Homo sapiens: one gene and its partners. The protein of the gene in region 3 interacts with the protein of the main gene of each other region in a biochemical or structural test. Each region holds a gene or a part of one and is shown on either strand. Other genes may lie near its edges.

Region 1 (7,987 bases), on a different chromosome or scaffold from region 3:
TCTGAAACGCAAGGAACCTATAGCTTATCAAAGGTAAATGGACTGGACCAGAGTCGTGCAACTGACCTCAGAGGAGAGAAAGGAAACTTTCTGACTTCCAACCCCAGGCTCATTCCAGTAGCCTGCACATTCACCACGGGGGTGTATTTGAAGATTGATAGCTGGCGATGTGTTAGGAGGCTCAAAAGAGGTAGATTTAGGAGCAGAGAAAGAAAGTTCTGTGTCGGAGAATCAGCAAACCAACCTGAGAAACTCAACTCACTCCACAAAGGAATTGATTGAAAATTAGATGTGTTCAAAAATAACTTGAATAAACTCATGGATACTCCATCATAAGTTATTAAGGAAAATTCCTATTCTTCTGACACGCTTCCATGAACAACCAGGTCCTTCCAGTGCCAGAGAGAGAGTGTTGGGCTGGGCACACCCAGTGTGGAGCCAGTACATCTACTTTTATGAAAGTCATTTAGAAGCATCACTAAAGGAACTGAAAAACAATTGACCAATAATGACAGTACTCCAACACCTAGTTTTATCTTCTAATCTCTATCCATACATCTATGTAGTGTTTATATTATTATTATTTTTTGAGATGGAGTCTCACTCTTGTTGCACGATCTTGGCTCACTGCAACCTCCACCTCCCAGGTTCAAGTGATTCTCTTGCCTCAGCTTCCCGAGTAGCGGGGATTACAGGTGCCCGCCACCATGCCTGACTAATTTTTGTGTTTTTAGTAGAGATGGGGTTTCACCATGTTGGCCAGGCTGGTCTCGAACTCCTGATCTCAAGTGATTTGCCTGCCTCGGTCTCCCAAAGGGCTGGGATTATGGGTGTGAGACACCATGCCTGATCTACATTATTTATATCACAGCTCATGTACAAATTTATTTTCTTCTTCTTTTGGGCAAGGCAATTTTATGATTTATTTTGGTATGTCGGTATAATTATGTTATCAGTCATCTCAATGGCTACACAATATTGCAGTATTCTAACATGTCCTAGTCTACTAGGCCCCTATGTTTTGACATCTAAGTTATTTTCAGTATTTAGACAGTCAAAACAATGTTGAATACTTATCATTATCTTGTATGGGGATTTAAAAAATGCATGTCAGCAGGCTAAATATTCAAAAAATTACTGCTCCAAGAAAATAATCCAATTTTTAACTTAATATTTTGAAATAATTTCAAACTTACCAAAGAGTTGCAAGAATAAAGACCTCCTCCTACAGTTTGGTGAACAGCTCTTAACAAGAATAAGATTTGTAAGAGTCCTTCCCATGCCTTCAGCTTGTCCTGTTTTGATGTTTCTCATTGTTTGTGTGGAATTCACACAACTGGTGCTGTTACCACCATGGGCGTCTAGTCTGGATCAGTGGTCCTCAGTCTTTTTTGCACCAGGGACCAGTTTTGTAAAGATAGCTTTTCCACGGACAGAGGGAGGGGAGATAGTTTCGGGATGATTCAAGAGGATTACATTTATTGTGCACTTTATTTATATTACTATTACATTGTATTATATAATGAAATAATGGTATGACTCAGCATAATGTAGAATCAGTGGGAACCCTGAGCTTGTTTTCTTATAACTAGATGGTCCCATCTGGGGGTTATGGGAGACAGCGACAGATCATCAGGCATTAGATTCTTATAAGGAGTGCACAACCTCAATCCCTCGCATGTACAGTTCACAATAGGGTTTGCACTCCTATGAGAATCTAGTGCCACTGCTGATCCAACCGGAGGTGCAGCTCAGGCAGTAATGCGAGTGATGGGGAGCGGCTGTAAACACAGATGAAGCTTCACTGGCTCTCCAGCCACTCACCTCCTGCTGCGCAGCCTGGTTCCTAACAGGCCACGGACAGATACCAGCCCATGGCCCCAGGGCCGGGGATTCCCAGTCTAGATGGAGACCTAGACAAGGCGTGCGACAATAACACCGATTTTAGATCCATCATGACATTTACCCCATCCCCTGCAAAGCCAGATGGCTACCAAAATTAAATCTTAGTTTAGACACAGAATGTCCGTCTTCTGGTCCAAAACATCCTTGTCATAAGTTTCTTGGCTGGGCGCGGTGGCTCACACCTATAATCCCAGCACTTTGGGAGGCTGAGGCAGGTGGATCACGAGGTCGGGGGTTTGAGACCAGCCTGACCAACATGGTGAAACCCCGTCTCTACTAAAAATACAAAAAAATTAGCTGGGCGTGGTGGCGGGCACCTGTAATCTCAGCTACTCAGGAGGCTGAGGCAGGAGAATTGCTTGAACCTGGTGGAGGTTGCAGTGAGCCGAGATCACACCACTGCACTCTAGCCTGGGCGACAGAGCAAGACTCTGTCTCAAAAAAAAAAAAAAGAAAATAAAAAAAAAAAAAACAAGTTTCTTGCCCACTCTTCCTTTCTCTGAGTTTCCAGAGACATCACATCATTTCTTACCCAGCTGAGCAGAGTCCCAGCATGGCTCTCGTTCGAATACCCATCCTGCCACCTGCCCCAGTGAGAAGGGTTGGAGCAGCCCCTGTTCTCTGCCCCCGCCACCTCCATGACTCATGCATTCTGTGGGGGAGGCGCCCACTGCAGAAACAGCCAGGCTGGCTGGGAAAAGCCCTGCAGCAATTCCCCGTCCAGTTTCTCTGTGCCCACTTTGTCTCCGTGTTATCTAGGCCTGGATTTATTTCTCTTTTTTGAAAATGAAGGGCTTTGATGAAATGTTCACAGGATGTGAGGTCACCAAGATTTTTTTCCTTTTTTTCTGTTCTTTTCTTTTCCTCGAAGTGATCCCTTGACTAAAATCAAGGCTCCCATTGTCACCTTATCAGCCTGCCCATGCCTAATTCTGCATTCTCAGGCTTCCCCAGAATCTGTCCGAGGGAAACCAATCTCAATTCAGAAGGAACACAGAGGCCCCAGTTTCTAGGGCTGCAGGATATTGCTGGGTCTTAATCATTCGGGTATATTTCAGCAAAGCTCAGGGCCCCTGCTAATGATCTGCAAACCCTCTCCTCTCAGTCTCCCGTTGTTTAGCCCCTATTTATAAGTGAGTGCATGTGGTTGTTCACTTTCTGTTTCTGAGTTATTTCAGTTAGGATAATGGTCTCCAGTTTCATCCATGTTGCTCCAAAAGACAGACTTCATTGTTTTTTACGGCTTTGTCGTATTCCTCGGTGTATATGTGCATTTTCTTTATCCAGTCCTCCATTGATGGACACTTAGGTTAATTCTGTGCCTTTGCTATTGTGAATTGTGCTGTTGTGAATTGTGTGTGATAAACGTGTGAGTGCAGGTGTCTTTTTGATGTAATGATTTCTTTTTCTTTGAATAGATACTCAGTAGTGGGATTGCCGGGTCAAATGGATGTTCTATTTTTAGTTTGGGAAATCTCCATATTGTTTTCCATAGAGGTTCAGGATCCAGGATTTAAGTGCAACCATTCAGTGGAAAACCATCCTCTCAAGAGTTCAAATGAGAGTCCTCATGACCAGCACTCCCTGCTGAACGGCAATGCCCCACCCCCCAAAAAAGCCTCCATCCTCACCATCTTAGACCACATTGCAGGAAAGCAGCCCCATGCCCACCAGACAGGCCCACAGCTGCTGCTGCTCATGGGAGGTCTACCTCCCGTGCTCAGCAGGCAACCCACCCCAGTGCCCCTTTTCTACAATGACCATCAGCAGGGCTGCAGCTTCATAAAAATGTGAAAAACAGTTTGAAAGCAATGTGAAAAGCAGTTAGGTGCCTTTCAACTTCAAACTCAGCACTCATGGTTTGACAAATATGAGTATATTTAGGATCAGAATGTATGAAATCTGGCCTCTCCTGAATAGTCGGTCATCCCACAATTTCCTCTGCCAAACTTCTCTTCCCTCCCTGCGTTCTTTCTTTCACCTCTCTCTCATTTTTACAAGGTCTGGTCTCAGCCAGACATGAACCAATGATGATAGATGCTCCTGCTGAGCCCTGTGATGTGCCAGGGCCCTGACATGCGTGGCTTCTCTCTGATCCTCACGTGACCTGCAGATGCAAAAGCCAGAGCTCAGCATAGTTGAAAATCTTGATTGAGGTCATATCCCAGTTACTGGCACAGCCGGATTTAAACCTAAGACTTTCCCCTACACGACAGGGCTTTTATTTCTCAGTCATCTGAAAAGGTGTCAGCAAGGGAAATGGCTTGTCTATTTCCAGGGGCATTTTACAAGCAAATACTGAAAGGCTTCGGTGGGCTTAAGGGCTGATGGCTTTGATCGAATTTCAGGCATGTTGGCCCCAAGGCCCTGTGTATATTCCCTGGGCCCACTCAAGGGGATGCTGGAGCCGGAAAGTCCCCGGAGGCCACCTACTGCAGCCCTGCACTTTACAAAGAAGAGAAAGATTCTCCCTAAAATTACAGAACAGGGCCAAAGATGCCTACCGGAGCAAACCCCCATGGGGGCACCTCCTACCGCAGGTGAGCCCAAGGCTGGTCCTGCCTTCTCAGTGGCTACCCCCCTGAGCTCCCGCCACCACACAAAGTGTTCCAATCCTTGTGCATCCTCCAGTCCTTTTAACCTCTCATGTCCTGAGAGGCCAGAGCTACAGCCACAGATTCCAGAAGACACCCCACTCCCAGCCCCAACCTGCTGCCTTTAGAATTATAAACACTTCTTGTCATCACAGGGTCCTGAAAGTCCCTTTTAAGCCTGGGACACTAGGACTCTAAAGGAAGATGATTCTTAAGGTCCCATCCCACTTCCAAATTCCTGCGATTCAATGACATCACGGCTGTGAATAATCAGCCTGGCCCGAAGCCAGGATGGGCTGTGCTGCTTCCACCGTGAACTTCCTCCCCCTGCTTTATAAAAACAGGCCTGCCTCAGCTCCCTCATGGCCCTGTCCACTGAGCATCCTCCCGCCACACAGAAACCCGCCCAGCCGGGGCCACCGACCCCACCCCCTGCCTGGAAACTTAAAGGAGGCCGGAGCTGTGGGGAGCTCAGAGCTGAGATCCTACAGGAGTCCAGGGCTGGAGAGAAAACCTCTGCGAGGAAAGGGAAGGAGCAAGCCGTGGTAGGTCGGGTTTCTGTACCTTGGGGTCTGTCTCCTCTTCTTTCTCTTAAAAGTCTTTCCAGCAAGCTGAGCCAGTGAAGGAATGCTTTAACCAAGGGACCAACTTTGTAATTCAGGCAACTAGAGGATCCGCTAGAATCCACTCCAGAGGGGAGATGTCTGTTTGCATTTGCATGTGATTGGGATAGGCTGGAGTGTTTTGGAGGGGAGAGGCAGTCGGGGAAAGGGAGACTAGGGAGGTTGCATTCATTGGAGAAGCCTCTGCTGACAGAGTAAAGGGGAAAGTGAAAAGAACGATACAGAAAAGCCCCAAATAGCCTATGGGAGTACCTCAAGACGAGCAAGCAATAAAAGCAAAATCGGCTGCCTTGGGACACGTGCCTGTGACAGCTGGGAGGGCCCGCTGGGTCCCCTAGTTTCCTCCCTCCCCCGATGAACCCCCAGAAAGGAACTGAGGCTGTGGATGGGGCAGAGGGGGACTTACTTCCAGAGCACTATTTGCTAGGTGCTGGGAGAGAGAAGCAGGTGGCTTTCACACCCCACATTACCCCGTGGGATAGAGAAATGCCTCTGATCTCCCTAGGTGCCACCCCTACAAGTCTCCACAGGTCAGTTTGGCCCTCTGGCTTTTTGCCCAGGGTGCATCAGTCAAGTGTGCAGTCCTCCTTAAAGGACATTTTAATTACAGGGGAAAAAACTGACATTAATGTCTTTTATTCCTAAAGCACTCTGCAGGAAGCATGTGGGGTTCTCCAGATTTTCACTGTTATTATCTTTATTTTCTTAACCTCACAGGGAGGGAGAGAGGAAGGGAGGGAGGGAAGACGAAAACACGCCGAGGTCCCAGGTAACTAATGACAACTCAAGCTCAAAGAAGTGTGGTAACAAGGATGTGTTTGGTGGCCAATTGGGAATAATATGGTGGTCTCCTGTAGCTGCTTGATGACAGAAAAAATGTCGTGTGTGTGTGTATGCGTGTGCATTGCAGTCCCGGGAAGGGGTCTTGCAAATACCATTGTCAGGTGGAGTCCCCTCAAAGGTGACTTCCTAGCAGTACTTGCTGTGGCAAGAACGCTCATTCTGGGATCTAGACTCAATCCATGACGGTCAGCATGAGCTGCTGGGTGCGTGCTTCCTGTGCAGGCAGAGTCGGACTCCAGCACTGGCAGGGACACTGTGAGTATTGAGATATGAATAGCTCCATCCTGCCCACCCATTTATTCCACCTAAAATGTTCTCAAAGATGCAAGCCTCCAAGCTCTGGATCAAATGATAAAGCCCCAGATCAAAATCTCAGGAGCAAATGAAAGCTGCCCTTGTCTCCAAAATGCTCCTTCTCTGCCCGACTCCCCAAGACCAGCTTGGTTTATTTCACAATGACTCGCGTCGGATTCTCCCAGTGTCTGCGGCTCCCCCTGCTTCATCACAGGCCTGGGACAGTCCAGGCAGCCAGGGAATAGCTGGGAATAGCAGTTCCCCTTTGTTGGTTTTTGAGTTCACTGAGGCTTTGATTTCCCCCAGGGCCTGACGTTGCTGAGCAGAGCCAGCGGCCAGTAGATTTCAAAGGATTCCAAAAAACAGTCAGGCACTCCTTTGTGAACCCAAAAGTATCTGAGACAGGTCTGTCAATTTAGAAAGTTTATTTTGCCAATGTTAAGAACACACATGTGACACGGCCTCTGGAGATCCTGAGGACATATGTCCAAGGTGGCCAAGGTATGGCTTGGTTTCATACATTTCAGGGAGACATGAGACATTAATCAATGTATGTAAGATGTGCACCGGTTCGGTCTGGAAAGGCAGGACAACTCGAAGTAGGGGCTTCCAGGTCATAGGTAGATAAGAGAAGGCTTCATTCTTCTGAGTCTTTGTCAGCCTTTCACTGAATACACAATTTACATATGAGAGGGGGGCAGAGGAAGAGTCACTTATGCCTTAGTTGGCTCAGTGAATCTACTTTTTTTTTTGAGACGGAGTTTCACTCTTTTTGCCCAGGCTAGAGTGCAATGGCATGATCCCGGCTACTGCAACCTCCACCTCCCAGGTTCAAGTGATTCTCCTGCCTCAGCCTTCTGAGTAACTGGGATTACAGGCGCCTGCCACCACACCTGGTTAATTTTTGTATTTTTAGTAGAGACAGGGTTTCACCATGTTGGCCAGACTGGTCTTGAACTCGTGACCTCAGGTGATCCACCCACCTCGGCCCCCCGAAGTGCTGGGATTACAGGCATGAGCCAACATGCCTGGCCTGAATCTTCATTTTTACAAAAACAATAGGGCAGAGGAAGCAATCAGATATGCGTTTGTCTCAGGTGAGCAGAGGGATGACTTTGAGTTCTGTCCTTTGTCCTGTACCCATTTGCATTGCCAAGGTGAAGTTCAGCAGAACTGTTTTAGGGTAAAGATCTTGAAGTCCACAAGGAGTTTCCTTGTGGGTAAATTGTGAGAGAGGTATGTAGCCTTTTATCTTTGTAGCCGTCTTATGTAGGAATAAAATGGGAGGCAGGTTTGCCTCATGCAGTTCCCAGCTTGGCTTTTCCCTTTGGCTTAGTGATTTGGGGGTCTTGAGATTTATTTTCCTTTCATACCTTGGTAGTGTCACTTGAAGCCACCACGCCCGGCTAATTTTTATATTTTTAGTAGAGACAGGGTTTCACCATGTTGATCAGGCTGGTCTCGAACTCCTGACCTCGTGATCTGCCCTCCTCCTCCAAAGTGCTGGGATTACAGGCATGAGCCACCATGCCCGGCCAATTTTTCTTTTCTTTTTTTTTTTTTTTAAGATGGAGTCTCGCTTTTTCACCAGGCTGGGGTGCAGTGGCACAATCTTGGCTCACTGCAACCTCCACCTCCCAGGTTCAAGCGATTTTCCTGCCTCAGCCTCCCAAATAGCTTGGATTACAGGCGCCCGCCACCACACCCAGCTAAGTTTTCACCATGTTG
Region 2 (6,934 bases), on a different chromosome or scaffold from region 3:
CAGAGCAGCCGCCTGCTGAGAAAATGGCTCTGTTTATTTCCAAGTGTGTCGTGTGAACCATGGGCTAAATATACCCACGCCACCGCCTCTCCAGCACCCGCCCTGGAACAGCACGCCCCATTTTGCTCATGCTGTCTCCGCAAAAGCAATCCTTAGAATCCACACCCCTTGGAAATACTACTCCCCTTCCCCAGGAAAAGAAGCTGAAATGGAAATGAAGGTTGTCATGACCAGGAACACATGAGTGGAAGCTGGGGCAGGTGAAATGAGAATGTTTCTATGGCACTGAAATGAGAATGTTCCCTCCACCCAGGAATGACTGTTTCTGGACAGTGAATGCTTTGTGCCCTTGTGGGGACAGCGCCTGTTTACTCCAACCCAGCCCCAGAGCTGAAAATTTCCTGTGGCTGCCAGCCGTCTACTTCAGGAAAGTTCCCATCAAGGGAGCCAGGCCTCTCCCATTTTGGCTGCAACCCCAGTGTCCCTGGTTTCTTGAGAGACATTTGGCCTCTTGGGATAACCAGGGCCTTCTCCTATGCTCTTCATAGTGTGGAACTCTCCCCCATCACAGATAAGCCTATTTTGTGACTCCACCTGGGTGTACTTGGGAGCAACAAAATCAAACCTCCTGTAAGAATATTTTTGTCTGCCAAGACCCGCAGAGGCTAGCTAGGATGGAGAGGGAGACAGGGAAGCATAGCCACGGCCCTAGTGCCCTCCTTTCCCCAGATCCTCCACCTCAACCCTGCTCCCACATTCCTTCTCCTGGAAATCCATCCTTTCAGCACTACTGACAGGACAGGTCCCTCCAGCCTCCAACTTCAGGGAAGTGTCCTGACATAGCAGCCCTCCCTTTGAAGCTAGGCAGTCTTGCAGTTTGATCCCGACTCTGCTATCTGTTTGCTGAGTGTTCCCTGCTTTAAATATCAGGCATCTTATTTGTGAAATGTGGCTCAAATCTACATCTCAGGATTCTGATGAAGATGAAATGGGATACCAATGCCTGACATGTAGTAGACATGCAATACATTTGTTAACTCATGTATTCTCATGTATTTACAGAGCAAGACACTGTTCTGAGCACTGGGTGTATAGGAACGAGACAGGACCTCTGCCCTCATCAAGACACATCTAGTATAGGCCGAGGGCAGTGGCTCACGCCTATAATCCCAGCACTTTGGGGCTGAAGAGGGCAGATCACTTGAGGTCAGGAGTTTGAGACCAGCCTGGTTAACATGGTGAAACCCCATCTCTACTAAAAATACAAAAATTAGCTAGGCGTGGTGGCAGGCGCTACTCGGGGGGCTGAGGCAGGAGAATGGCTTGAACCCGGGAGGCGGAGGTTGCAGTGAGCCAAGATTGCACCACTGCACTCCAGCCTAGGTGACAGAGCAAGTCTTCGTCTAAAAAAAAAAAAAGACACATCTAGTATGGAAGACACATCACAACAAAAACAAAGTACAGAATCTAGTTATGAGAAGTACAGCTTAATGGGGGAAAAATGTGGTGAGGTGGTGAGGCCGGGCATGGTGGCTCACGCCTGTAATCTCAGCACTTGGGAGGCTGAGGCAGAAGGATCCCTTGAGCCCAGGAGTTTGAGACCAGCCTAGGCAACAAAGTGAGACCCTGTCTCTACAAAAAATTTAGAAATATTAGCCAGGCATGGTGGTGTGTGCCTGTAGTGTGGCAGCTACTCAGGAGGCTGGGGCAGGAGGATCATCTGAGCCCAGGAGGTCAAGGCTGCAGTGAGCCATGATTGCGCCACTACAGTCTAACCTGAGTAACAGAGTGAGACACTGTCACAAAAATTTAAAAATTAAAAAATAAAGCACTGAGAAGAAAAGCTGGCATGGTGGTCATTCTGTGTAGTGTAGTTCCTGTAATCAGGAGGCTGAGGCAGGAAGATTGCTTGAGTCCAGGAGTTCAAAGTCAGTCTGGGCACATCTTTTAAAAACAAGAAAAAAAAAATGGTGGCTGGGCATGGTGGCTCATGCCTGTAATCCCAGCACTTTGGGAGGCCGAGGTGAGCAGATCACCTGAGGTCAGGAGTTTGAAACCAGCCTGACCCAACGTGGAGAAACCCCGTCTCTACTAAAAATACAAAATTAGCCAGGTGTGGTGGCACGCGCCTGTAATCCCAGCTACTTGGGAGGCTGAGGCAGGAGAATCGCTTGAACCTGGGAGGCGGAGGTTGCAGTGAGCTGAGATCGCGCCATTGTACTCCAGCCTGGGCAACAAGGGTAAAACTCTGTCTCCAAAAAAAAAAAAAAAAAGGCCAGATATGGTGGCTCGTGCCTGTAATCCCAGCACTTTGGGAGGCCGTGGGCGGATCACTTGAGGTCAGGAGTTTGAGACCAGCCTGGCCAATATGGCAAAACCTTATCTCTACTAAAAATATAAAAATTAGCTGGGCATGGTGGCACATGTCTGTAATCCCAGCTACTCAGGAGAATCGCTTGTACCCAGGAAGCAAAGGTTGCTGTGAGCCCAGTTTGTGCCACTGCACTCCAGCCTGGGGGACAGAATAAAACTGTGTCTCAAAAAAAAAAAAAACTGAGAAGAAAAATCAAGGAAGGTAAGGGGACAGGCAGAGAGAGACGGGGGTGGTGTACTGTTTTAGACAAGGCAGTCAGGGAAGGCCTCCCCTAGGAGGTGACATTTGAGGGGAGTCATGGTTGTGAAATGAGGGAGTGAGGCAGGCGACGACCTGGGGTCAGGTGCTCCAGGCAAGCAGGAACAGCAGACTCCTGCGGCAGGAGACGTTGGAGGAACAGCAAGGAGGCCAGTGGGACTGGAGTGAAGTTCAGGGGACAGGGGTGGGGAGGAGGCCAGAAAGTGTTGGAGCCAGATCCCACTAGACCTTGCTGGCCAGAGTAAGGAGTGGGGACTTTATTTCAGGTGTGATGGAAGCCCTGGGAAGGTTGAGAACTTGGAGTGACTGAATGGAGTGTGCTTCTGCAAGGGCTGAGATTCATGGGTCACTGCTCTCTACTGCCTTAATGTTGAGGATTCCTTCAGTCAAATTAGCAGCTCAGTGCACATGGCATTTTGCTAGGTACCAGGGATACAAAAATAAATGATGCTGCCCTTCTAAGTGCAGGAGAATGCTGCTGGAGGGCTTCCAGTGTTCTTAGAAAGCTCTGTGTGGAGCATGGACTGAGGGGGTTGTCAAGACTGGAAGTGGGCCACGGCAGGGGTCACAAGTGAGCAAATTGATAGGTGAGACCTGAGGCCAACTGGAGATGGCATGCCTGTCTTGAGGGAGCAGCCACTCGGCCATTTGGGACTGGTTGGAAATGTAGGCCCAGTGTGGCAGAGGTCTTGGTAGAGAGGCAAGAACCAGCCAGTAACTCATTCATTTTACACACACACACACACACACACACACACACGGTACTATGGTACTTCCTTTTTTTTTTTTGAACGGAGTCTCTGTCACCCAGACTGGAGTGCTGTGGTGCGATTTCTGCTCACTGCAACCTCCGTCTCCCGGGTTCAAACAATTCTCGTGCCTCAGCCTCCTGAGTAACTGGGATTACAGGTGCGTGCCACCACACCCGGCTAATTTTTGTATTTTTAGTAGAGACAGGGTTTCACCATGTTGGCCAGGCTGGTCTCGAACTCCTGACCTCAGGCAATCCACCCACCTCAGCCTCCCAAAGTGCTGGGATTATAGGCATGAGCCACCGCACCCAGCCTGGAACTTACTTCTTTCTTACATATTTCTAGGTGCCAGATGCCAGTTTTAGATTCTGGCTCCACCACTGACACAGCTGGGTGACCTTGATCCAGTCCCTGGACCCTCAGAGGCACAGCTTCTTGGCCTGTAAATGGGGAGAGACAGCCTGCATTGCAGAATTGTTGGGAGGATTAAAGGACAAATTGGGTACTACGCTTACTCATAAAAGTTATGTTCTAAGCGTCCTTCTCCCTGCCCCACAGGCTGCTGCACCCTGGGCTGGGTAATTTAGCCCACAGCTCCTCCTTCCCCCTGTCATGTGCTTCCCTTCTGACTTAGATTCAGGGCAGAGGGCTGTTGATCACAACCTCCTGGGCCCAGAGTCACACCCCCTGCAGTGGAGGATGTCCGGGACAAGGCCTCACAGACCCCGTGATGGAGGCCTGTCAGTCCTGCATCATTGTTACCCTCTCTCCTCTGCCCTGCTCTTCTTGTCACCAACCTGCCCACCAGAGGCTCCCTCCAGAGGGAGGAGCCTCTGGCTGAAGTCCCAGGACCCATTCTACCCCTGAATTGGCCTCAAATGACCCTGGGGATTTAGCCCTGGGCTTCCTTATCCCTCCCTCTGGTGCAGCAGTAGAAAATCTGAGGCCTAGTGGCTCCACACTCCACACTACCCTCAGACTCAACTCTAGGCTCCTTGCGGCTTCCAGGCCACGTATGGTCTGGCTCTTGCTCACCCCTGCACCATCATCTCCCCCATGCCCTCCTCTCCTGCACTCTGCTCCAGCCACCTGGCTTCCATCAGTTCCCTGACCCTGCCCATCTCGTTCCCACCTTGGATTCTGGAGTAAGTGCTACTTCTTGACTTACCTCAGACAGGGCACTTTCCTCCTCTCTACCTGTTTCTCAGCAGTAACATGGTTTGATTATCACCAATGGAGGGTCAAGAAAGAGGACCACCCTTAGCCCTTTACCTGGCCCAGAGTGGGCACAGATGGCTACAGTTTTTCACATCACCAAGGCCATAGCATGCAGATGGCCCCTTTCCCCACCCACCTACATCACTCTCTGAGGACTAAAACTGCACCTTCCTTCTCTCTCCCTGCAGGATACTTTTGTGGAACTCTATGGGAACAATGCAGCAGCCGAGAGCCGAAAGGGCCAGGAACGCTTCAACCGCTGGTTCCTGACGGGCATGACTGTGGCCGGCGTGGTTCTGCTGGGCTCACTCTTCAGTCGGAAATGACCAGACACTGACCATCCACTCTACCCTCCCACCCCCTTCTCTGCTCCACCACATCCTCCGTCCAGCCGCCATTGCCACCAGGAGAACCACTACATGCAGCCCATGCCCACCTGCCCATCACAGGGTTGGGCCCAGATCTGGTCCCTTGCAGCTAGTTTTCTAGAATTTATCACACTTCTGTGAGACCCCCACACCTCAGTTCCCTTGGCCTCAGAATTCACAAAATTTCCACAAAATCTGTCCAAAGGAGGCTGGCAGGTATGGAAGGGTTTGTGGCTGGGGGCAGGAGGGCCCTACCTGATTGGTGCAACCCTTACCCCTTAGCCTCCCTGAAAATGTTTTTCTGCCAGGGAGCTTGAAAGTTTTCAGAACCTCTTCCCCAGAAAGGAGACTAGATTGCCTTTGTTTTGATGTTTGTGGCCTCAGAATTGATCATTTTCCCCCCACTCTCCCCACACTAACCTGGGTTCCCTTTCCTTCCATCCCTACCCCCTAAGAGCCATTTAGGGGCCACTTTTGACTAGGGATTCAGGCTGCTTGGGATAAAGATGCAAGGACCAGGACTCCCTCCTCACCTCTGGACTGGCTAGAGTCCTCACTCCCAGTCCAAATGTCCTCCAGAAGCCTCTGGCTAGAGGCCAGCCCCACCCAGGAGGGAGGGGGCTATAGCTACAGGAAGCACCCCATGCCAAAGCTAGGGTGGCCCTTGCAGTTCAGCACCACCCTAGTCCCTTCCCCTCCCTGGCTCCCATGACCATACTGAGGGACCAACTGGGCCCAAGACAGATGCCCCAGAGCTGTTTATGGCCTCAGCTGCCTCACTTCCTACAAGAGCAGCCTGTGGCATCTTTGCCTTGGGCTGCTCCTCATGGTGGGTTCAGGGGACTCAGCCCTGAGGTGAAAGGGAGCTATCAGGAACAGCTATGGGAGCCCCAGGGTCTTCCCTACCTCAGGCAGGAAGGGCAGGAAGGAGAGCCTGCTGCATGGGGTGGGGTAGGGCTGACTAGAAGGGCCAGTCCTGCCTGGCCAGGCAGATCTGTGCCCCATGCCTGTCCAGCCTGGGCAGCCAGGCTGCCAAGGCCAGAGTGGCCTGGCCAGGAGCTCTTCAGGCCTCCCTCTCTCTTCTGCTCCACCCTTGGCCTGTCTCATCCCCAGGGGTCCCAGCCACCCCGGGCTCTCTGCTGTACATATTTGAGACTAGTTTTTATTCCTTGTGAAGATGATATACTATTTTTGTTAAGCGTGTCTGTATTTATGTGTGAGGAGCTGCTGGCTTGCAGTGCGCGTGCACGTGGAGAGCTGGTGCCCGGAGATTGGACGGCCTGATGCTCCCTCCCCTGCCCTGGTCCAGGGAAGCTGGCCGAGGGTCCTGGCTCCTGAGGGGCATCTGCCCCTCCCCCAACCCCCACCCCACACTTGTTCCAGCTCTTTGAAATAGTCTGTGTGAAGGTGAAAGTGCAGTTCAGTAATAAACTGTGTTTACTCAGTGAACAAAGAGCCTGGGCTCTTGTGTGCTCCGGGATGGGGAAAGGAGGGGCCGCTGGAGAGCTGGGTACTGGTCCTGGCTCTGCTGCCCTCAGGGGAGGGCCTTGGACAAGTCCTTCCTTCCTTCTGGGCCTGAATTTATCCACCTGTACGGTGACAGGGTTTTACTGGGTACATGCTGTGTGCTGGGCACTGGGGCTGCATGTGAACAGGACAGACACAGTCTCTGCCCTCAGGAGCTGACATTCTAGTGGGAGACACAGCCACTTGGCAAGTGTTTACTGAGCTCTGCTCTACACAGACATAGTCCTGGGCACTGGGGACTTCTTCAAACAAAACCTTTGCCTTTACAAGCATTCATTCTAGTGGAAGAGACAGACATAAGCACGGCTCTAGCTGCTGTAGGGTGTGGGGGAAAGGTGTGATGCCTTTCCTCACCCATCAGAAGGTTCTGTGACTGACATTCCTATAACAAAAGAAAAACAAAGTGGCAGTTCACACCCTGTAATCTCAATACTTTG
Region 3 (7,023 bases):
GGCTGCTGTGTCTGGGAGGCGTCTCTTCTGTGGGGTCAGGGGAGAGTCGTGGGGAAGGCTCTGGCTCCTAAGGTCCAGGGAGGTCTTAGGTGACCCACAGATATTACCACTGGACTGCTTCTCCTTCTGCTTCCCCAGCCCCCACCCCGGCTGAGTTTGTGGCCCCCCTGGGAGGCATAGCACTGAAGAGGGGTACTTGGTTCACTGATGGTTTGTTAACCCTGTCGGGTGGAGAATGTTCTGGGCCCGTTACTGTTATGTTCTGTGTCTGCCTGGGGTTACATTGCCTCAGCTTTCAATCCAGAGTTGTTCTCCTAGGAAGGTGTCAGGTAAAGGGTATTTCTTGAGGTTCTGGTGGGTGGTTTCCTGGTCTATCCCGGGGGGATGCACCTACAGGGTTAGTTTGGGAGGGAGGAACAAGTGGGGAGAGGGGAGCCCCCAGACTGGAAAGAGCCAGTGGCGGGCAGTGTAAAATGGATCTTCCCCCCTCATCTCTCTACCCTGATACTAATGTGGGCTGACCTGTCCATGGTTTCAGCCTGATCATGTGCAAGAAATAACACAGCAGCGACAAAAATAGGACAGAGTAAACAGCTCGCTGCTCTTCTGTCTGTGCTCTGACACAAAAGTGAGCTGGGATAAAATTAACAAAGCATCTGGAAAAAGTAAAGTAGGACCTGGATCACAACTTCACAATTTAAAATTGTAGAAGTTTATACTGTTTCTTTTACAACATACTCAGTGAGTCTGTGGCCTCCTGCAATGCCTTTGAAGTTAAAGCTTTGGCCAAGAATGCAACTTCCATTGATGATATGGAAGCATATCATGTCATATGACATGCCAGGAGCATGTCATATATGTGTTTATTTGTGTGAATATATATACATGTAACTTCAGATGGTATATATGCAGATGAATTTTGATAATTTAGGTATACTGTATTTTAAAACGAATGGAATGGTCCTTCTGGTTGAGACTAATGATTCTGGGGATGGAGAAGGTGCAGGAGATGAGGCTTTCTCATGCATGACCCCCTCTCCTCCTGGGCAGAGCACACCATGTACAGTCCCAGATTAGGATATTAATCCTGTGTACACAGCATATACAGCATGCCAAAGCAAAGCCTTCCAGGAATGCAGTGTGGTCCTTAGGGCAAAGACTATTTGAGTTACTCTCCTTCCTTGAACACCGAGGTGCTTAATAAATGTTTGTTGATTGACTTAGTGATATGCAGCAATCCCAAGTAGTCCTTTGATGGTTGGTTTTAAAAATAAAGTTACACTGGAGCTCAATAAATATTTGTTTAATGTATTTGGAGGATGTATTTGGGTTTTTTCCATGTGAAGAGCTGCCAAACTGGTTTGGTTTTACTGTATTCTCTATGAGAAATATGAAGTGGGTTCCCATAAAGTCCAAAAGTTTTGTGAAAAGTTGGGCCCATCCTGGCATATAGTAGGTACTCCATAAATATTTGTTGAATGAATGAAATCAGAGCCACATGGAAAATGATGTTCCCATGAAAAGCTCTGATTTCTATTCGGTACATTTAATGTCCTAGTAGCTGACATTTTGTAAGATGATATGTTTTATTGGCAACAGTCCTACAATTCAGTAAAGTCACTGGCTCATGGGAATGTGTCTTTGACAGTTTATTCATTAAGCAAATATTTCCTGACTCCTACTCTGTTCTGGGCCTGGGCTCAGTCCTGGGGATGCTGAGGAGGAGAGGTCTAAATTGTTGATCATCTGTCAACAAAGACTCATTGAGTGTCTCAAGCTCTGGCCACAAAATGAAGGACAAGACAGCAAGGGCTTCTTGGCCCATCTGGGAGGATAAGCTACCTGGTAGTCTTAGTGCTAGGTGATTTTTATTGGTTGCTAATTACATCTAATAATTGTTATTGATGGAAAGCTAATTTCCCTAATTATCAATGCATTTATTCTGGTGATTCTTTTATCATAGCAGAAGATGGCTGTGCCACCCACGTATGCCGATCTTGGCAAATCTGCCAGGGATGTCTTCACCAAGGGCTATGGTGAGTGTTGCAGAGAGGGGGTGCCTTTCAGCTCACAGACTGAGTTGGCATGTTTGAGACTTTACCGATAACTGTTTAGGAGACCTGGGTAGGTCAGCTGTTCTGAACTTTCACGTGAGGGAAAAAAGAAGCTTTCATTTGTGTGGCAATTGTAGCAACTTTGGTTGTGCACCCAGTTGGACAGGCTCCTGCATTGGTGCTGTCAAGTGGGTATTCTTGTTTTCTTTTCCAAGTGTGGAGCAGCCCTGTGGAAGCTGCTGCAGTGGAGCGCGGCTTCTATATTTAGCCTGTGCTTAGGCACATGCCCACGAGGCCCAGTAACTGTGTCTTTGCCAGCTGTCAGGTGTCTTCTTATCAGACCCTGCTGGGAGTGCAGGTGGGACCCAGGTGGGGGTGCCCATTCTGTCTGCTGCTGTTCCATGGCAGCTGAGAGCTCCCCCCACGAGCAGCAGCAGAGACTGGGTGCCCTCAGCCCCTGTGGCAGGAGTGTGCTTCTTTTTAAAAAAGCATCCTGAAGCAACCATGAGGGAGGCAGAGGTGCTGTTCTCTAGTTATTTAACCTATTGACAGTTGTCTTCTTCTTTCTTTAGGATTTGGCTTAATAAAGCTTGATTTGAAAACAAAATCTGAGAATGGATTGGTAAGTTGTCCAACCCACATGGAACATGAGTATTTATTTATTTTTATTTTATTTTATTTATTTATTTTTGAGATGGAGTTTTGCTCTTGTCGCCCAGGCTGGAGTACAATGGCGTGATCTCAGCTCACCACAACCTCCACTTCTTGGGTTCAAGCGATTCTCCTACCTCAGCCTACCGAGTAGCTGGGATTACAGGCACCCGCCACCATGCTCGGCTAATTTTGTATTTTTAATAGAGACGGGGTTTTTCCATGTTGGTCAGGCTGGTCTTGAACTCCCGACTTCAGGTGATCCGCCCACCTTGGCCTCCCAAAGTGCTGGAATTATAGGCATGAGCCACTGCGCCTGGCTTATTTTTATTTTTAAAAAAGATTTTAGATTCAGGGTGTACATGTGCAGGTTTGTTACATGGATGTATTGTGTAATGGTGAGGTTTGGGCTTCTAGTGTACCCATTACCCAAATAGTGACCATTGTATGGAACGTGGGAATTTGTTGTAGATCAACAAATAACTGTCGTGACCTGGCCCGCAAAGCCAAAAGAAGGTACTTTTTTTTTTTTATTCTGGCAGTTTTTGTGGTTTTCACATTCATTCCATTTTCTGCATGATGGGTGGTCCAGGGGAACCATGCCAGTAGGCCCCCAGTTCAGCAGCGGGTAATAGAGGAGAATGGGTCAGGTCTCAGTTTTAGTTTTCCTTGTGCTTCTTATTTTCAAATTCACCTGCATTCAACCACATAAGTGTTTTTAAAGTAATCTTAGTAGTCCCTTTGAAATTATGTGTGCAGTAATTGTTGGAAGAAAGAAGTTTTGGGTTTGAATTACCGCTGTGTCAGCTTTAGCTCAGTGCTTTTTCTCTGTACTGCCCTGGAGCCAGGATGGAAGGGAGATGCTTTCCTGTCCAGACTGAAGAGTTACAGGGAGGAAGGAAGCTGTCTGCTGACAACAAATTCCCCATAAGATTTCTTTACATAGCAGGCTCCTTTACTCCCATCTGTACTTTAAATATCTATTTGAATTGTAGAGTTAGCCTTGGCCCCCCCACATTCAGGGTCTTGCCTCTTGCAGAAAGGCAAGTATAGTGTTTAGGAGTGAAGTGAAGCCAAGTGAGTGCTATGGTGCAGGCTGTGACTCTTCTCTCTCCTTTGAAGGAATTTACAAGCTCAGGCTCAGCCAACACTGAGACCACCAAAGTGACGGGCAGTCTGGAAACCAAGTACAGATGGACTGAGTACGGCCTGACGTTTACAGAGAAATGGAATACCGACAATACACTAGGCACCGAGATTACTGTGGAAGATCAGGTAATGGCTGCTGTGAAAAGATGTGGATTTATTAATTCGCATCTGCCAGCCTGCCTTGTGACTAAATCTAGTGGCAAATTTCTTTTCTGTTCAGCTTGCACGTGGACTGAAGCTGACCTTCGATTCATCCTTCTCACCTAACACTGGGTAAGAGTTTCATCTGTTTTCTCCACAAGGATGTTCTCTGATGTTGCAGGTGGTGGAAGCCCTTTGTGACAAAATGTTTTGGGGGCTGACAGCACCTAAAATATGGTCTCCGAGACCTGGCGATTTAAGTCCTCTGGTTTTGATTTGGTCCCAGGGGTCGTATCCACATCTATGCACTAACAGACTATGCTATAATGAGCACTTCCTAATTCAGGACTGGTGTTTACCCAACAAACGATTTCTAAGTGCCACCTGTGCTTGGCCCTGTGCCCATCTGGAGATCTAAGGGTGCCCAGGCCATGATTGTTACCCGCCAAGGAGCTCACTTTCTAATAGAGGATTCAGACCAGTGTTTAGCCGTGTTTTGTAATAAGATTCTGCATTTTGTTAGTGTTCTCCTAGTTTCTGCCATGGAGGTTGCAGGATTTCTGTTCAGTAATAGCCATTTCATGTGAGTTAGGCTGCTGGTGATGTAAGTGGCTATGACCAAACGGGAGTGGGTGACATTTGGAAGCAGGGCCTAACTGGTCACTGTTGCCAGCCTCATTTCTTCAGGCATGGAAGTCCTTCTCCCAGCTTCCTGCTGCTTAGGGACACTGAGACCCTGTGGGTGTAACTGCAAGGTGGCTCCTGAGGCTGCACTTTCCCCAGGCCTTCTGGCCACAGATGTAATAGGCTTGTTAGTTCTTGACCATCACTTGGCATGATAGCATGGTAGTCTGCCTCAATTCCTGGGTGCTTTTCAAAGTGCCTAGAAGGAATTATTCCCTTTTAGAATACACCCTTGTTTTTTTCCACTCATATTGGTGGGTCTTCCAAACCTGGGGAAGATGTTTTATATAGTGATGTTAGGGTCAAGGGCATGTACTGAATTTCAGTTTTTAAAAATTGTGGGCCGGGCGTGGTGGCTCACGCCTGTAATCCCAACACTTTGGGAGGCTGAGGCAGGCAAATCACCTGAGGTCGGAAGTTTGAGACCAGCCTGACCAACGTGGAGAAACCCTGTCTCTACTAAACATAAAAATTAGCTGCGCCTGGTGGGCGCATGCCTGTAATCCCAGCTACTTGGGAGGCTGAGGCAGGAGAATCGCTTGAACCTGGGAGGCAGAGGTTGTGGTGAGCCAAGGTGGTGCCATTGCACTGCACCCTGGGCAAGAAGAGCGAAACTCCATCTCAAAAGAAAAAAAAAAAAAAGAGTCGGATGCAGTGACTCATGCCTGTGATCCCAGCACTTTGGGAGGCTGAGGTGGGTGGATTGCTTGAGGTCAGGAGTTTGAGACCAGCCTGGGCAACATGGCAAAACCCCATCTCTAATAAAAATACAAAAATTAGCCAGGCATGATGGTGCGTGCCTGTAGTCCCAGATACTTGGGATGCTGAGGCATGAGAATCGCTTGAACCCAGGAGACAGAGGTTGCAGTGAGCTGAGATCGCACCACTGCACTCCAGCCTGGGCTACAGAGAGAGACTCTGTCTCCAAAAAAAAAAAAAAATTGTGGTAAGATATACATATAAAACTTAACATCTTTAAGTGTGTAGTTAAATGGCACTATGAATTTTTCAGTTTTGCCATTCATTTTTTTTCTTTCTTCCTTTTTTCCTTTCCAACAGATATTTATTAGAGGGAGGATCTACCAAGTGCAGACCTGTGCTGGGTGTGCAGTGCACACAAGTGACTGGGCACACATGGTTCCTATCCTCTGGAGATGTCGTCTTATAGCTTGGCTATAGATGATCTGAAGAGACCATTGTTACGGGGCTGATTTACTCTCATTCCTCTTCGCTGCTGTAGTTTCTCCTGCAAGAGCACTGCCTTTTTGCAGTGCTGTGCACTCTCCCCCCAGGAACTCTGCCATGGTATCAGGGAGCGGTTATCTGGAAAGATCCTGGGATAGGATGAGAGGCTGGAGGATGTGCCCACATGCTTGAATTTGCTGCCTGGGACTTTGCCTGCTGCCCTGGGATAGCACACTTTGGAATTTGTAGGTGATTTCCTTCCCATGACCTTAGGGAGCTTTGCAGAGGTCTCCAGGCCATGCAGTATAAAACACAAAGGAAAGTTTTTTGGTTTTTTTTTTTTTTGGGTTGAGGGGGACGGAGTCTTGCTCTGTCGCCCAGGCTGGAGTGCAGTGGTGTGATCTCAGCTCACTGCAACCTCCTCCTCCCGGGTTCAAGTGATCCTTTTGCCTCAGCCTCCCAAGTAGCTGGGACTACAGACACGGGCCACCATGCCTGGCTAATTTTTGTATTTTTAGTGGAGACGGGGGTTTCACCGTATTGGCCAGGCTGGTCTTGAACTTCTGACCTCGTGATCCACCTGCCTCGGCCTCCCAAAGTGCTGGGCAGATTCATGTGTTTCTCCTGCCTCAGCCTCCCGAGTAGCCGGGATTACAGGAATGCACCACCACACCCAGCTAATTTTGTATTTTTAATAGAGACAGGGTCTCTCCATGTTGGTCAGGCTGGTCTTGAACTCCTGACCTTGGGTGATCTGCCCACCTCAGCCTCCCAAAGTGCCGGGTTTACAGGCGTGAGCCACTGCACCTGCCCCCCTTTTTTTTTTAATTTACTTTTTATTTCAAAATAATTTTATACTTAGAAAAAAATGTGGCAAAAATAGTATGCAGAGTTCTCCTGTGTTCTTCACCCAGCTCCTAATGTTAATGGTTTACGTAACTATAATGATCAGAATCAGCAAGTTAATGTTGATATCATATAGTTAATTAATCTGTTGTCACAATGACGTCTTTTTTCTGATCTGTGATCCAGTTCAGGTTCCTAAATTGCATCTAATTGTTAAGTCTTCTCTAATCTGGAATATTTTCTGACTCTGACACTTTTGAAAAAGAGTGGCCAATTATTTTGTTAAGATGTCCCTCAGTTTGGATTTGTCTGA

Evidence for each region.
Region 1: the proteins of VDAC1 (region 3) and PLAT form a complex in vitro, tested with the Homo sapiens proteins (one study listed by BioGRID).
Region 2: the proteins of VDAC1 (region 3) and BCL2L1 form a complex in vitro, tested with the Homo sapiens proteins (4 studies listed by BioGRID).

The regions. Positions count from the first base shown.
Region 1 is NC_000008.11:42,204,551-42,212,537, reverse strand, and holds the start of PLAT (tissue-type plasminogen activator isoform 1 preproprotein), read left to right. Parts: upstream 1-4,972; 5' UTR 4,973-5,044; intron 5,045-7,987. UniProt on the Homo sapiens protein: Converts the abundant, but inactive, zymogen plasminogen to plasmin by hydrolyzing a single Arg-Val bond in plasminogen.
Region 2 is NC_000020.11:31,663,943-31,670,876, reverse strand, and holds the end of BCL2L1 (bcl-2-like protein 1), read left to right. Parts: intron 1-3,729; exon of another isoform or gene 3,730-3,886; intron 3,887-4,790; coding exon 4,791-4,928; 3' UTR 4,929-6,419; downstream 6,420-6,934. UniProt on the Homo sapiens protein: Potent inhibitor of cell death. Inhibits activation of caspases. Appears to regulate cell death by blocking the voltage-dependent anion channel (VDAC) by binding to it and preventing the release of the caspase activator, CYC1, from the mitochondrial membrane.
Region 3 is NC_000005.10:133,987,959-133,994,981, reverse strand, and holds part of VDAC1 (non-selective voltage-gated ion channel VDAC1), read left to right. Parts: intron 1-1,963; 5' UTR 1,964-1,969; coding exon 1,970-2,036; intron 2,037-2,626; coding exon 2,627-2,676; intron 2,677-3,827; coding exon 3,828-3,980; intron 3,981-4,074; coding exon 4,075-4,127; intron 4,128-5,738; coding exon of another isoform or gene 5,739-5,847; exon of another isoform or gene 5,848-7,023. UniProt on the Homo sapiens protein: Non-selective voltage-gated ion channel that mediates the transport of anions and cations through the mitochondrion outer membrane and plasma membrane.